Regions from separate parts of the Homo sapiens genome. Here region 1 is linked to region 2. A link means that fine-mapping ties the variant in region 2 to the expression of a gene that starts in the linked region. Tissue or cell type: whole blood. Region 2 holds a variant in brackets; the other region holds the start of a gene. All regions are shown on one strand. Distances are between the middles of the regions.

What was found. PIP is the estimated chance that this variant, and not a neighbour inherited with it, causes the effect.
Region 1: FAM167A starts here. The variant in region 2 is fine-mapped to the expression of FAM167A in whole blood (TOPMed, PIP 0.96).

Annotation. Positions count from the first base shown.
Region 1 is chr8:11,462,193-11,470,192 of GRCh38, forward strand. FAM167A (family with sequence similarity 167 member A) reads right to left here and starts at 4,561. Exons shown (of 3, transcript NM_053279.3): 1 at 4,434-4,561. RefSeq lists a silencer at 4,269-4,478 and an enhancer at 5,724-6,493.
Region 2 is chr8:11,420,343-11,428,605 of GRCh38, forward strand. It overlaps FAM167A (family with sequence similarity 167 member A), which reads right to left. Exons shown (of 3, transcript NM_053279.3): 3 at 1,134-4,294. The coding sequence ends at 4,031. All of the region lies in intron 3 of FAM167A-AS1 (FAM167A antisense RNA 1), which reads left to right. Among named protein-coding and RNA genes, the nearest start is that of FAM167A, 42 kb to the right of the region's middle. RefSeq lists enhancers at 4,183-4,726, 4,727-5,269 and a silencer at 5,159-5,350. The variant C/G (reference allele first, on the strand shown) is at 5,056.

The DNA of each region.
Region 1 (8,000 bases), 42 kb after region 2:
GGAAAGGAATCAGGAGCAGGAGAAAGGGATGGAGCAAGTTAGAACAGGGCAGAGCCGGGTGTCGGGGGACGTGGGTTGGTTGACAGCCAGCCTGCCACTTACTAGTTCTATGACCTTGATCAACAGATTCAACCCTCCTAGGCCTAGGTTCCACATCCATGAAACAGGATTGTAATGGATCGTACCTCACAGTCTTGGAAGGACCAAATGAGATCAAGTTTACGTGAATTTTTAGTTACACCTCTAATACGACTGTCACCTCCTGCTCTTGACTGTGCTTGGCTGTCACTCTCCTTGGTCCATCGAATTGGGAAATGGCTCCTGCACTGCGAAAGTTAACTGAAGCGTGCAGAACAGCATTTTACTGTGAGCTCAGGACTCTACTGCATCAGCAACCTCGCCAGACTGCACGCTCCCTGAGGGCACGGCCTTCACCTTCTGCTTCCTTGGTAGGGTGGTGCATTTGGATCCTAAACTCCTTTGCAGAGATGGTGGGCTGTTCTGTGTGGTTTCATTATGCCAGCTACAACCTAGATGTATTCAAATCAGCAACGCCCACCCCTACCCCACTCGCAGCCACTGCCTCGAAGCAGAAAGCATCTGCTCCAGAGGCAGCAGGGACAGGCACTTCAGCGTCTTTATCTCTGGTCAGCATTGGGCATTTGATGATTAGCAAAGTAAATATTAGAAATGCGTTCTCATTGGTAAAGACAGAGGTATTCAAGATGTGTGGGTTGGCTAAATGAATTCAGAGACACTCTTGACTCAGGAAAGAGCAGGTAAAAGAATCCATGAGAGCTCCAGGGAGGTGTGGTCAGGGCAGCAGAGAGCAGATTGCTGGGCTTCACCGAGCCCACAGGACAGGCTGTATGGACTCCGCTGGACTTGTTTCAGGTAAATATTTGTCCAAAAATGTGTACGTCTGGCAGAATTTGCTCTGAGGCTGCTTTCATTCAAACTTGATAATGAGGCTGGCTTCACCTTCCTCCAAGTTTTCAGTGGCTGCTATCAAACAAATAAACAAAATAGCAGCAGCCACACAACCAAATTTGGGAAGTGCCTTTGTGACTGGAGGGACTTAGGTCAGTTCACGCCTGGCATGGGACTTCCAGGGCGAAGTGCGTGGAGCTGATCACAAGACTAGGGAGGTAGTGTCACTTTCAACTTGATGGTGGACAGTGGGGGCCAGGTCCCTAAGGCAAAGACCCTCATCCAGAACCTTCCTGGGTGGCCACCACCCTAAGCATGAGCCTGCTGACCTAGGGGCTGCTGTGCCCAGCCAGCTCGCAGAGGCTCCGCTGGCTTCCTGGAATGAGGAAACACTGCCCAGCCTTCGAGAAGGCCTGGAACTGTAGCCAGTGCACAAGTCACTGCCTAGGCTCTTTCCATACCTGCCACTGGACCTGGAAAATGGGGTCTGACCTGGGCCTGTCCCTCTAGGGATGCCCAAGGGACAAGCCCTGCGAGGGAGCCCTTGGGCATCTACTGCCAGCTTCCACCTTTGGATCAGGATGCCCTGGAGGGAACTTCCGGCCACACTGAAGAAATGGGGGCTTGGTCCATGCCCCCAGTGGGAGAAGGTGAACCCTCATCCTCTTCAGGTTTCTGCAAAGGCCGCTGGGGAGGAGGATCACACTTATGGGCACCCGAGGGACCTTCTGGAAATTCCTCAGTGAAGAGAGCTTTGTGGTGGGGGAGCAAAGCCACCCCCCACTATAGATGACAACTTGGGGGGAGCTACTATGTGCTTGCTAAGGCCACGTGGCAGGGCCCTGGCATGGAGAGGAGCCTGACGCTAGACAGCTGCTGCTAGAGAAGAGAGGCCCCCTTGACGGCTGTGCCCACAGGGAGACTGGGCTACTGCTCAGCAAAGTCCTCTCGAGAGTGGCTGATGGATGAGATTTGATGCTGCCTGGCAGAGATGAGCAGGCAGGCAGTGTGCAGAAGGAAAGGGGGTGAGGTGGGAGCAGCCCCCCTTGAACTGCTCTGCTCACCTTCTTTCTCCATGCTTGTCCTTCCTCTCCAACACTTCTCCAGAGAGAAGTGGTAGGGGTCAGGGTGGGGAAGAGTTGGCCTTTAATGGACAGGGCAACGGTCCTAACCAGGGAAAAGCTGAGACCTGCGGCCTACCTGACTCATCCTGGCAACACGGCCCTCGGTGGCAGCTCAGACTCTACAGGTGATTGCAGAGCCAGTGAGGCTCACCTGCCGCCCCTCCTAAACTCTTTTCCCACCCTGTCCCATCCTTCCTGCTCCCCACCTCCCCCTGCCCACCATGTAGCCCATCCTCAGCCCCTCAAGGTCTGTTTCAGTCTGTGCTTTTCCTTCCTGTCTCCACATGGCAATCCAAGTCTCGGGGTGCATTTGCACAGTAACAGCCAGCCAGGCTAATCCTAAGGGATTTCCAGTTAGTGGCACGTGCGTGCTCTCCCACCCCTGGTCTGGAAACCAGGAGCAAAGTGCTCAGTTACTCATTTTCCGCCTTTGCAAGCAGCTCAAGTCCCTTGGGAAAGCACAGCTCCCAAAGGGTTCTGGGAATACCGGGGCTCCTGTAGGGCCAACGGGGCTTTCTGTGAGCAAGATTTGCCTAGAGAACACAGCAGCCAGGGTGTGAGAAGCCTAGCAAGTAGTTTCTTCCTCATTGGCCTGGGGCTCTGTGGCTCTCTCTCAGCAAATAGTTAGGCATGGCCTTAATTTATTTCCCTGCCAGAGTTCCTCCTGGAGGGGGGCCAAGCTAGTAGACAGGAAGGCGGGGACTGGCAATTTAGTAGAAATCCATGCATGTAATTGCGAGGACCAGAAGAACAGGAGCAAGTGCGCAGGGAGTCTGGGGGCTCTGGGCAGGCAAGGAGGAGAACAGGGTGTGGGGGAGCAACCCTTTCTTCTGCTTCAGGTGGGAAGAATTGAGGCCGGCCAGGCCCAACAACACAGCCTTGCAAGCTCCTAATAGAAGAAATGGCTTTCCTGGCTCCACAGGGTTCCTCAAGCAGGCAGGGGACCTTCTCAGGTCATAAGATGAGCCCCACGACACAGTTCTCATTTCATCTGGGCGTGAGTGGTTTCTGCCCCTCTCTGGGCCTTAGATGCCTCAGATTTCCCAAAGCAGCCTTCGTCTGAGAGCACTGTCCCGGGAGTCAGGCACGTGAGGCTGACTCTCTGCTCTCTCACCAGGTGTGGGAGCCACACCAGGTCACTCAATTTCTTAGAGTCCCATTGGCAAAACGGATAATAGAGTCTCCTTGAAGACTGATGGGGAGGATGGAGTGACCAAGGGATGCGAAGGGTTTCTAAGTAGTGCATGGTCCATAAATGCACTCAAGAAAGAAGAGCTGTCATCTTTATCCATTCCAAGCACAGCCCATGGCTGCTTTCCAAGCTCCTTAAAAACACGCTGCAGAAGTTCCTATCCTGCCAACGCCCTCAGGCAACAGGCGCCACAGCACCTCTGCTTTCCCAAGACTTTGTCCACGCTCTCCACGCTCCATCCCGAGCTTAGTGAGGGGCAGGACTGTGTCTACTGTGTCAGTGGGAAGCTGCTTTGGAGCATGTGCCCCTTGGTGAAAACCCTGTGGATAGGACGTGATCTCATCTTCTGGGATTCTCCAGCAATGACGGGGAGTTTGTGGAAACTTGACTTGGGAGAACCTGCTTGCAGGCATACGGCAGTGGCCAGCCCCCAACCTAGAGTCAACCCTCCTTCCAGATCTTCCCAGGAGGTCCCAGTCCTCAGAATTCCCTCCAAGCCCCGCCGGGAATAAAAACCAGGCAGTAACGGGTGTGCAGAAAACCTATACATCCAACCTAACTTGGCTGAAGAAGACACCCTCCCCCCCGCCGTCTGTGCTCCGGTGTCTCGGTGACTCAGGGTGCCCACCTTCACGGCTGACCTGCTCATTCCCGGGGGCCCCTGCGGCTGTGCCGTTCCCTCAGGTCACACTGGCTTGGGTCCTTAGAGCACCCTTGGGTCCAGGTGCCCTGGGCCACCTCCCATTAGTTAGGGACCGCATCCGTGGGGACAGAAACTTCCATCTCACTGAACCTATACACAGGAGCCAGGCTGGGCTTGGAGGTCACCAGCCGCCTGGGAGTGGACCCGGAGAGGCTGAGTGCGGCCCTCCCTCTCAGACGGCAGACCCCGAACCTCCACCCAGAATCCGAGCCCGGACACGGCCAGCAGGGAGCTAGGAGATGAAGTCCAGCCCTGGCTGCCCGGCTCCTCTGGGAGGGCAGCGAACCCGCGGGAGCGCATGAGCGGCCTCTCCCGGGGGGGCGGTAGGAGCGCGTCCCCTCCAGGGCGCTTTGGGATCGGGCTGCTCCGGGCCAGTGCTCGCGCTGGGGACCTGCGACGCCTCAGCCCCTGCCCAGACTGCGCCGCCCGCCGCGGCCACACCTCCCAGTCCCTGGGAAAGTCCCCGCCGCCGGCGCGAACCCACCTTCCGGGAGCCCAGGGGCCCTGCTGGGGACTCGCCGGTGTCCCCGCCGCCTCCTCCTGCGCGGGTCCGCGCTGCCCGGCCTCAGCTCAGGGCTCCCGCCTCGCCTCCCCGAGCTCCGGTGAATTCTCGGCGCTGCTCCTTTCGGAAAGGACTTTTTTTTTCCCCCTGCGTTGCGTCAGGGCGGTTGCCTGGCGACGGCCGAGCTCTCCGCCGCGAGCCTTTCACCGCGATCCCGGCCTCGCGTTCTCGCCCCGGGTCCGAGCGCGCCCCGGGTCCTAGCGCCCTGTCGGTTCACCGGCCCGGGCAGCCCCCGCGAGTGGAGAGGAACTACATGCCTTCGCCAAACCCCAGATGAAACCAAACCCAAACATCCATTTTCTCATTAAACCCGAAACCAAGGCAGTTTCCCCCAATTGTGGCAACGTGACTGCGCCACTGTCAGAAGTTTGTCCGCATGGAGGGCGCAGGGGGACCCCACGCCCAGGGCCTCACCCACCCCCAAACGGCAGGAGTTCATAGGACCCGCGGCCACGACTGCCCGCGAGCGCCTACCGTGGGCCACGCCCCCCAACGACCCAGCAGGGCAAGTGTAGGCATCTCTGGCTGCCAGATGAGGAAACTGAGGTGCAAAGACGCGAGCGTTTGCCCCACTAACCACAGGGTGTCTGTCCCGCCAGGGGCGCGGCATCGGCCACCTCTGGCTGTCGTTAGATTCTAAGACCCAGTCCCTGCTGCATCAGAGCCCAGAGCTGCAAACCCTAAGGCACAGGCAGGACAGCAGCCCGAGCTGCCCGGACCGCAGGTCTTCAGGACCAGTCCCAGCTTCTGACGAGGGGCCCAGGCCAGACACTGGAGGCCCCAAGGCTGGTTACTGGATGGGGGTCTCTTACCCCAGACCTCATCAAGCACCTTTCCTAGATGCCCGGGGCTGGAAGCGTCTTTCAAAGGGCTCCAGTCTGCCATTCTCACGATAGCCCTGGGCGTGCGCGCAGGCGCCGCCTACATGGCCAGACGCGAAGCTGAGTGGTGGGGCTGCAAAGTGACTGGCGCAGGCTCCAGGCAGGTGCGCGGCTGGTCGGGCCTTCTGTGGGGTCTTAGCCCCTGCAGGGGCCCGAGACACTCGTGCTGCCCTCTGGTGCCCGCGTCCTTCACTGCAACTCCGCATCCAGCCCTGACCTACTCCCTTCCTTTCTGACCTTCACTGGAAGGTCCTCTGAGGGACGTCGTCTAAGGAGACATCTTGCCAGTACAGACCTAGTCATGCTAATGAGGGAACGGTCCTAAGCTAGCGGGTGTATTAACAAGCATCTTTTGGAGAGTCACAGCCTTGATCCAGATCTTCTGATTCCAGCTCCTAAACATCACTCCTTCCTTCTTCCTGCCCGCTGCCACTGTCCCTACCCAAGCCACCAGCAGCTTGCCCTACCCAGTTCTGGGACCTGCCACCCGGGTCCAAGCGTGCACGCAGTCTCCATACTGATCTCCCTTTACCCTCTCTCAGCGCCTCCCAAGCCAGTTACTCCTCCACAAACAGGGGAAACTCTTAAGAATGGAAATCCAGTCTCAGCTGCTTCTGCTTAAAGGCCTTCAACGCCCCCAGTCCTCTGAGGATTAACAGCTAGCTTGGCTGCAGGGGCCTGGCTGGCCTCTGTCCGTCTCTAGGGCCTTGTCTTGCACAGACCCTGCTCCCCAGACAACAGACCCTCTTCCAGTCCCATTGTGCACCTGCTCCTCCCGACAGGCTGCTGCAGCTCTGCCTCCTAAGGGAACCCCAGGTTACAGGTGCTGGCAGCCCCCTGCCTTATGTCCTTCATGGACCAGTTATAATTCCAAGTTTACCTGTGAGGTTATTTGATTAGTATGTGTCTCCCTCTGAGGCAGTAGGCTCCGGAAGGGCATGAACCATGTTTGCAAGCAGGAGCCTCAATCTGGACTTGGGGATAAAGCATCCTTCTGGGTGCTGGCTGTTTCTGACCACAGCCCCGGTGCTGAGCCCTAGTTGGCTGCATTGCTCACTGGTGTGCCCATGGCCCTGGCACGTGGTGAATGCTCCAAGATCTTTTTGGATGGGCCATTCAGCCCCATCTGGAAATGCTTTGTCCCACCTCTACCTCCTGGCTCCCTGTTTGACCTATGGCTTCTATTTCTGGGAGTGCAGATGCTTTCTCATGGGGGAATTGTGGCATGCCTCAAATGGACAGGCAGCCTGTCCAAGGCAAGGGTGGTGTCTTGCCCTGTGGCTCCCATTCTGCCTGGCATTTGTCTGCGGGCAGGAGGGTAATCAGTGATGGGGACCAGGAGGAGAGTGGGCCAGAGGAAAGAGGAAGGGGAGGAGGAAGAGCAGTCTTGGTTGGAGTAGCCTCAACTCCAAAGTGAAATCATATGGAGTGGTCAAATAAATGAGTTAGCACAGAATGGTATGTAGCCATAGAAATAATATTCTCAAAAGCTATTTGATCATATAGAAAAATACTAACGATTTAACGCTAAGTAAATAAGACTGGGACACCAAATCCTGTGTACATTATGAAACTTCTCATTCCAATATCTAATTCATATGTATGCATGGAAAAAAGATTGGAAGAGTGTATGCAAATATTAGCTGTCGTTATCTCTGGGCTGCAGGATAATGGAGGATTTAAAATGTCTTCTGTAAGCCTGCATTCGTTTTCTACAATGAATCGTTTTGTAATGAGAAACATCAAGAAACACTACTCAAAAGGGAAGATGGCACTGTGTTGGTGTTTCTGATGGCACTTCCTTTTGTGTCAGGCACACTGAAACCCAGTGATGGTGGGAGGATCTGGGTGGGCCAGAGAAGGCAAGGCCACCTAGAGGTTCTCTCTTCCCTTTGATTCCTTACAGAGAAGTTTTCTTTCCGTTGGTGCATGATGCATGAGACATTGCCTCTTATAATCCTACAGGAAGCTGTGAAATAGATGAGTCAAGAAAAATGCCCAACCAGGCATGGTAGCTCACACCTGTAATCCCAGCAATTTGGGAGGCCGAGGCAGGGGGATTGCTTGAGCCCAGGAATTGGAGACCAGCCTGGGCAACATGGTGAGACCCCACTTCTACAAAAAAAAAATGAAGAAGAAGAAAGAAAACTCAGCTGGGCATGGTGGTACACACCTGAAGTCCCAGCTACTTGGGAGGCTGAGGTGGGACTGCTGGAACCCAGGAGTTGAAGGTTGCAGTCAGCCATGATTGCACCACCGCACTCCAGCCTGGGCAACAGAGCAAGACCCTGTCTCAAAAATAAATAAATAAATAAATAAATAAATAAATAAATAAATAAAAGATTTAAACTTAAAATATTCTTTCAGAATTTCTCCCAATTCGTTTATTCATCTGTTCAATAAATACGTATTAGTACCACTAAATACCAGACATTGTTCTAGGCTCTTGGGAAATGTTAGTGAACAAGTTAGATGAAGGACCTCGCCCTTGAGAACTGATAATCTAGCAGAGGAAAGCAGGCAGACGATGACCGACAAATACGCTAAGTAAATAAGCAATATTGTGAGTGATAGAAAAACAGAATTGTAGACTTGGATTGGAAGTAAT
Region 2 (8,263 bases):
CTCTGCACAATTGCCACTGCCACTGGAAGAGCTCTTCTCCAGGAAGCTTTGACCACTTGGGAAAAGCAGCCCCCTCCACACCTGGCGCCGTCTCACATTTTATCTTCTCTGTGGCACTTAGAATGGTTGGATTTGTTTGGAGGTCACATTCATTTCCCTGTGGGCTGCAAAAGTGCATGTGTGGTCCCACCGGCAGGGTGGAAAGGCCCTGGCTTCTTGAATGCCCTTTGAACCACATGGTCAGGGCAATGGCAGATTCCCCAGTAACCTGCTCCCTACCCACCTCACGCCCACTCTCCCCCAAGCAGCTTATACTGTGTGCTCTTTGTGGAAAGAGACATCACAGGCACTCCTCTTGGTGTAGACAGGGGATATCATCTCAAGGGATGGACAGAGATCTGCAATTGTTGTTCAGCGGTTCCTTCCACAAAATGGGATTAGTGACACCCACTTTGACCCTCTGACTTAGGTCTTTGCTGAGAACACAGAGATGGGATCAGTGAAAAACAGGGCCTTCCCTCACCTGCTTTGTCTTCCAAAGGTTTCTCAAAGTGTCTTTAGACCACCTGTGTCCATCACCTGGGGCGTCTGTGAAGCCCGGAGCGACACAGCCAGAATCCCTGGGGCTGGAACCCAGTACTTCTCCTGGGAATATGCATTTGTAACAGCAGCCCAGGTGACTTTCATGCATGCTCGATTTTGAGGTTTAAGAGGTGCTTTAAGTGGCTGAAAAAATTTCAGGCATAAGATCTCAGAGCATAATATGATCACCTTTGGAAAAGGCCACTGGAGGAGAGTGGGTTTACTTTGGCTCTGGCTTCTGTCAAACTCAGGAATCAAGCCTGCATTTTTTAATTCTACCTCAGCTTACCTGTGGAACTCCGGATAGTAACAACCACCAAGCAGCTTCCTCAAGGGGAAGATACAAGGAAGAACAGTGATTTGGGTGAATCTTTTTCTCCCTCCCCTGCCTCCATCTGGTTGCAAAAATCTTCCTTCCCTCCTTCCTTCCATCTGTTGTTCATCCATCCATCTGTCCATCCGTCCATCCATCCATCCATCCATCCATCCATCCATCCATCCTGTGTGTGCTATAACAGGGACAAGCTAAAAGGACAAGCATTTTTCTCTCCTTTTATTTTTATATGGATATCTTCTTTTGAAGTATTTTTATTTCACTTTTTCTAACAGCAATATAGAAACAAATAATCATAAAAAATAAAAGTATAAATCGTCCATTGATTATGTAATAGCACTTGGTATTGCTACAGGGTGTGGGTCTTGAACTCGGTCAGGCATCGTCAAGCCTGCCCAGGCCCTCCAGGCCTCTTTGATAGCTACTGAGCCCCTGAAGGCATCAAGACATGACCACGCATGGCAGTGTCGGTGGAGAGTTTGCGTTTTACACCCAGCGATGCTTGGGGATGGCAGAGAGATGGATGGATAATGAGTACAACTGCAAACAGCACTGTACACATGTGGTGAGCCAGGAGGCTGGGACGGAGGTTAGGCCAATGTTGCTGCTGACTCATAGACCCACAGAGAGCAGGGACTTCACAAAGCTGAATTAATGTGGTTAGTTGTGTTCACTGTGCAAAGTAAGGAAGCCAGTCAACACTGGACGATGTTTAGAAAACATCGCTGTCCCCCTCCACTTCTCATCTTGGGTCACCTCCTCATCCCATAATAAAGTTCTCTTAGGATAAACCGAGCAAAATAGCTCAGACATTTAACTTATCCCCAAACATGTGTCTTGATCTTAGTTTCCACCCAGAGAATGAAGAAAGCAAGCAAGCACTGGGTTACCCAAGCAACTAAATCACTCAGTTGCATCCAACTTAATTGGACTGACTACATTCAGCTAAATCTTTCCATTTTCGCTGAACCCAATGGTTTCGGTTACTGTAATGACTGATTTCCAAAAAGAAAGAAAAACCTAATTTGGCATTTTTTCAGAATATGGGATGGGCTTTCCTGCATGGGTTCAAGGATGTTTATGGCATGTTCTCTGTCGTGTGTGTGTGTGTGGGGGTGTGTGTGTGTGTGTGTGTGTGTGTGTGTGTAGGTCAGCCCGAGACCTCAAGGGCTTATCTGGAAAGAGGTTGGCAGGAAAGGAATGCGTCTTCAGGACTTGGCAGTGTTTGTGCAGAGCTCTGAGGAAGGACAGCAGTACATGGTCCTCAGGCCTGCAGACTTCATTGCACAGAGCATGGCAGACAGTAGATCTTGGCTGCGTTGTTCTGCCTACTTTGAAGGAGGCATAGAACTTCTGGCTCTTTGAAATTTTAAAAAAGAGACCAAGTTCTTTTCTGTCTACTAGAGATCATTCATTTGCATTGTCCTACTCTCAGCCCACAAAAGAAAAGCAACCTCTCCCCTATGTGGGTCACGATGTGTGGGTGGACACGGGCCCCACTGAGATTACACAGGAAGAAGTCACAGTAGACAGAGCAGCCAGATGCCGTGCGTAGACCATGGGACAGTGATTAGTGACACATGCCCTGTGGGGCCACTGTCAGTGCCTTGCTCCACCTTGACCCAAATGTTCTGAATTGCAATACTCTGGGAGATGTGGGTGGGGGCTGAGGTGGAGAGTAGAGGGGTTGGCAGTGTGCGGGTTTGGCAAAGCATCACGACCATCTTTGGGGTTCAAGTTCATTGACATGTGATCTACTAGGCATTATCAATAATGGTTTCACACATCAATATTCTATAGCCTAAACAGCTGTGCAACCTGAGGGAAGTCCTTCTCCTCCCCCAGGTTTCACTTTGCTCCTTTACTAATGAGAGGACTCGACTAGATGACACCAAAGGTCAGAAACACTCCTTATCTCAGGATTCTACGGGTCTGGCCGAGGGACCCCTGCCATGCCGTATGACCCCAGACTGACCTCCCTAACCTGCTGGGGTCTTAACTTGCTGATCCTCAAGCCTGTTGGGAGGGAGAAACTCTTAAAATCAAATCCTACGCACTGTAGTTGACCTACACAAGTGGCTTCCGCATTTGGACAAAAATCAGTTACTAACAAGTGAACAACACATCAGTAACAGTCTTATTAAAACTAGTTGTTTAGGTCAGGCACAAAATCTCAGAGGAGGCTCAGGATGGGCCTCTGGGCTCCCTAGATTGTCTTTCCAGAGAGGGCAGTAAGGTGACACCACCAGAATCCACCAGGAGGCCCCGGTCACGCCCCTGCAGGAGAATTCAGTTATGGAAAATGCTTTCAGGACCTGCCTGGTTCAGTCACCAGTGGTCTCCCAGGCTGTCACCCTGGGGTGTGGGTGGCAGTGAAGAGGCTCTTTGGAGATGCATGTGGCCAGGGGAGACAATGGGGACATCTGTGCTTGTTGCACCCAAGCTACGCTAGTGCCCCCATCACATGTCCCAGCACACGCCAGAATTTACAATTTACACAGCCTTATAGTGTCAGGCTCACCAGAGACACTGGCTGCCAGCCACTGGGGCTGCGTCCCCAAGTGCCCATTTGTCATGCCTTTCGATTTTCCCTTCCTAGTAGCTCCCTGTCAATGTTGCTGAGTCATGTACTTAGGGTGAATTTGAGACAATACTTAGAGGACAGCAACAGCACGTGAGACAGGCACATCTGACATGCCTAATTTCCCCCAAGGCCCTTGCGGGACAGCCTTCTGCAAAAATGACAGCTTTGTTGGGGGGCCTCCCTTTGGGAATCCCAGTTCATAGCACCAGTGATTCCAGGAAACAGGAACGTGACCGTGGAGGGATGGATTATGGTGGGAACCCAGGTCTCCTTTAACATCTTGGTTGGAGCGGCCCTTCTGCAGAGCTCTTTGGGTAGTAAGCAAGAGCCAGTCACAGAGACACTGGCATCCACACCCAGGGCCCCTGGGTGGGAGAGCACCACTGAATAGGTCCTGGGGCCCTTGAGTCGCCAGTCCCAGGGACCCCTGCCTCCGGGAGACCCACTGGAGTAACTTGGCCTCAGCTTCCTCTGACACCCCTCCAGCCCAAGCCCTCCGCTCCAGCCCCTCCGCCCAGTCTGAGGGCTCCTCAGCAGAGAGAGAACCTCCGAGAGTTGATGTTCATCTTGGTCACGCCAATAAGCTTGAGTGGTGTGGAGAGGCTGAAGGAGGAGGCAAGAGGGGAGTCACAGAAGAGGTCGGCCAGCTCATCCCGCTCCTCCAGCTCGTAGGTGGCATCGTTGAGCATCCTCCTGTGGAGGCGGCAGGTGTGTTCGATTTTCAGCTTGTTGATGTCGCCACGCAGGCGCATGAGCTGTCTGGCCAGTTGCTGGTCCTGCAGCCGCATCTCCGTCTGGAAGGGAGGGGGAGCAGGCAGGGTCAGCAGAGAGTGGCTCGAGTCCCTGACAGGCACAGACTGGTTAGCAGGGCCCTGACTAATGTCTTAGTTCATTAAGTGGTCCATCTAGAAATATTAGCACTTTCCCTGCTCAGGGAGGTGAAAAGACACAGAAAGCAAGGTGACAAATGAGGGTGCGGTCGCAAAACAATACTTTGTGCTAGGCTAGTTGCTGTATCTAAGTCCTTCTGAAAGACATGCATATTGGTCCTGGCTAGAAGATACTTCCAGTGCTTTCTCATTGTTTAGAGTTTCATTTAGATGGAGTAAGAGTATAAAGGAAAACATAGGGTAACAGCTATCAAATTCAGGAGGATGGTTGCCTCTAGGTGAGAAGGAGGGACTGTGATTGGGAAAGGTATATGGGGGCTTTGACTGTGATGGCCATGTTTTCTTTCTTACGCTGGGGAGTGTCATGTTGTTACATTACTCTTTAAACGTTTTAGAATGCCTGAAATATTTCTTAGTAAAGTTTCAAAACAGCCAAACAAAAATTGGTTCCTAGGTACTGGGTGTTTTATTATGAAACAGTTCTAAGGCCTTTGGGTCTATTAACATGCAACAGTTAACCGTCACTACAACCTGTGAAGTGATGTCACCATCATCACCCACAGCTTATAGAGGAGGACACAGAGGCACAGCCAGGGAATTAGCTGTGTCGGCTCACAAAGCTCATCCACAGCCGAGCTGGGATGAGGAAGCCGGACAGCTGGACT[C/G]CAGAACCAAAATGACTGACAATGAAGTTCTGCTGCTCAAGGACGAGCTGCAGTGTGGTGTATGGAGCTAGCAGAGTGCTTAGTGACCTTGTAGAAGGTTCCTAATATTTTTAGTGGCTTGATGTTTCCTATTGATGTGTAAACACAAGGTAAAATCCTAAGCCCCCCAACTGACTGAACAAGCCCGCTCTTCATCAAGAGGACCCCAGAGAAGCCTGAAAACTGAATTCCCAGCCGTGATGGGAATGGAGTTCAGACATGCTTTGTTATACCCCCCCTTGCTGTTGGAGTTTAGGCACAGCAGATCGGCATTAACATTGAAATAGAGATATAAGACTGACAAAACAGACTCTTTGTGGCAGTAAGGTAGCAAATTCCTGCCTCTGGTATAGCGTCACATAACAGGTAGCAAACCCTGAAGAAAATAAAAATATTTTACCCTGAAGTATATTTCTTTGACATATTTTGAAATGGCCCTGCAAAACCATCTCTTGTGGGAGATACTTACATCTGTAGAGCATTTCCATTAATGCAATCAAGCCTTCCCTTTCTAGGCCTTTCCAAGATCTAGGAGAGATTAAATGAGAGTCTGGCAAATTTAAGGTCTGAAAAGAGATATTTACCATCTATTTTCTCTAAAGGCTTCTACCTGGAGGCTTCATCTACATAACAAGAACCTTGGCCTCCACAACTGTCCTTTGTCTTAAGCATTTCTTTCTACTGACTTCAAGTCTTTAGGCAAAACTTAACTCTTTCAATCAACTGGCAATAAAAATATCTTTGAATCTACCTAAGACCTGTAAGCACCCCCACCCTCCAAGCCCCTTCAAGATATCCCACCTGTTTAGGCTGAACCAAGGTATACCTTCTGTGTATTGAGTTATGTCTTTGCTTGTAACTCCTGTCTCTCTGAAATGTGTAAAACCAAACAGTAACTGGACCACCTAGGGCGAGCTTTCTCAGGACCTCATGAGACTGTTCCCTGGCCCATGGTCACTTACACTGGCTCAGAATAAACCTCTTTAAGTATTTTACAGAGTTTGTTTTCTTCTGTTAACAAAGAGATGTGATAATTATTTCTCACCTGGCTTCACACTCCCAGTTTCCCAAACCCACTGTAAACCAAAAGTGTCTGAGACAGGTGTCAACAATTTAGAAAGTTTATTTTGCCGACGTTAAGGATGCACACCTGGGAGGCAGGTCTATGCCTTTCCTCAAAGATGATTTTGAGGGCCTTAATATTTAAAGGGGAAGGAGTGGATACTGGGGGAAGAGGAAGAAATTTTTTAAAGGTGTAGGTAGATAAGAGACAAACGATTGCATTCTTTTGGGTCTTTGATCAGCCTTTGGTTGATCAGTCTTTGATCAACCGAATACACAATTTACATGTTTGTTTAGGGTAGAGGAAAAGTCACTTGTGTCTTAGTCTGGCTCACTGAATCTGCATTTTTATAGAAGATAACATAAACACAAGGCACGTGAAGCAATCAGGTATGCATTCGTCTCAGGCGAGCAGAGGGATGACTTTGAGTTTTGTCCTTTGTCCCGCACCTGAGAAGATCAGATGTCAATTTACATTGCCAGGGTGAAATTCAACAGAACTGTTTTAGGGTACAGGTCTGGGGGCCCAACACGGAAGTTCTTTGTGGGCCAATTGTGAGGGAGGTATGTAGGTTTTGTCTTTGCAGCTATCTTATCTAGAAATAAAATGGGAGGCAGCTTTGCCTGATGCAGTTCCCAGCTTGACTTTTCCCTTTGGCTTAGTGATTGTGGAGTCCTGAGATGTATTTTCTGCTCATGTTTAACCTTGATGGGCCTCACAGCCACTCCTGAGGTACCAGCAGGACAGTCTGGCTCCATATTTTACCAGCCAGCATGCTAGCTGGAGCTCAGAGGGCTGGTTTCTCAGTTGTGACATGGTACATAGGGACTGGCTTAGTGCAGAGCGCCTTCTGTAAGCAGCACTTTGTCACTGGGACAGGTTGCCAGCTGCTCCTACTTGACTCGAGATCTGAATCCTTCTCACTATTTCCTCTGTCTCCACTTGTAAGTGGTTATTTAGTATTTCTGCGACATGCTCGGCTGTGCCATTTACCTGGTGCCTGGAGCCAAACTGATTAGAAAAATGAGCCCTGAGATGCCCTGTAGTTATGCAAATGAAGGCAGTGTTCTCACTTTCTCCCTGTTAGGTTTATAATAGAGCACATTGCAGGGTAGAAAAATTAAGTGACCTTGCCAGCGAGCATCTCAATGTTCTTTTTTTCCTCTCTCGTTTTTTATGCACTTGTACAGATCTCTTTTCTCCTGATTTCATATATAAGAAAAATCAAGATAGAAAGTCTTGCTTGGGAGTCAGCAAGGTATCTAATGGCAAAATTGGGATTAAAGTTCATAGCCACATTCATTAGTTTACTTTTCAATCCTTGGGCCTCAAGCATTGAAGAAACTCAAATTTATTGCTAATTAAATTCTATTGACCTAGAATAGCACCAAATTAATGATGATAGGGTGGCTGGTCATTTGTTTTGTAATGGTGTCCCTCACTGAGCCTGGAACGGAGCTAGGTGCTACCTAAACCCTTCTGAGGAGATGGGGGTCAAACCTGCCTGAAAGATATTGTCTGCGAACACCCATTGCCTTAGTACAGTCATCTGTCACTTCTCTTTGGAGTGTTCTGTAATTTGACAATAGATCTTTTTGAAAAACTAGGAACCCTATGGTTTAAGATTTGAGCTTTGGCCCCAGGAATTGCATCTTTGGTGTGAAAAGATCCTTTGAAGTCGGGGAATTTGGGGTGTGGCCAGGTGTCTAAGACTATCTGTGAGACGCAGGCTGTGGCGGACACATCTCTGTGGGGTAGCAGGAAGGAAGGGGCTGTTTTTCTGTGGCTGACAGATCTGGTCAAAGGTCAGAGAACAATTTACTCTTTAAGACCCATCAGAGGCAGCTAGAAAGAGGGCTGACAGTAAGGCCTGTGTCAGTTTCCATGGACTGGACAAAGGCCGCCTGGATGGCGTTGCCTCGCACGCCCATGCTGTGCACATGCATTCAATTCTGCGTAAGGGTGAAAAGAGAAAGAAAGCTGCAGCTTCAACAGGGATGGTGATTCCGGCCGGTCTCCCTGCTTGCGCTCTGAGAGAACATGAGGAGGGGGCTGGGAATTGCAACTTCCTCAGTGGGCTTTGGTTCTGAGGGCATCTCACAGCGT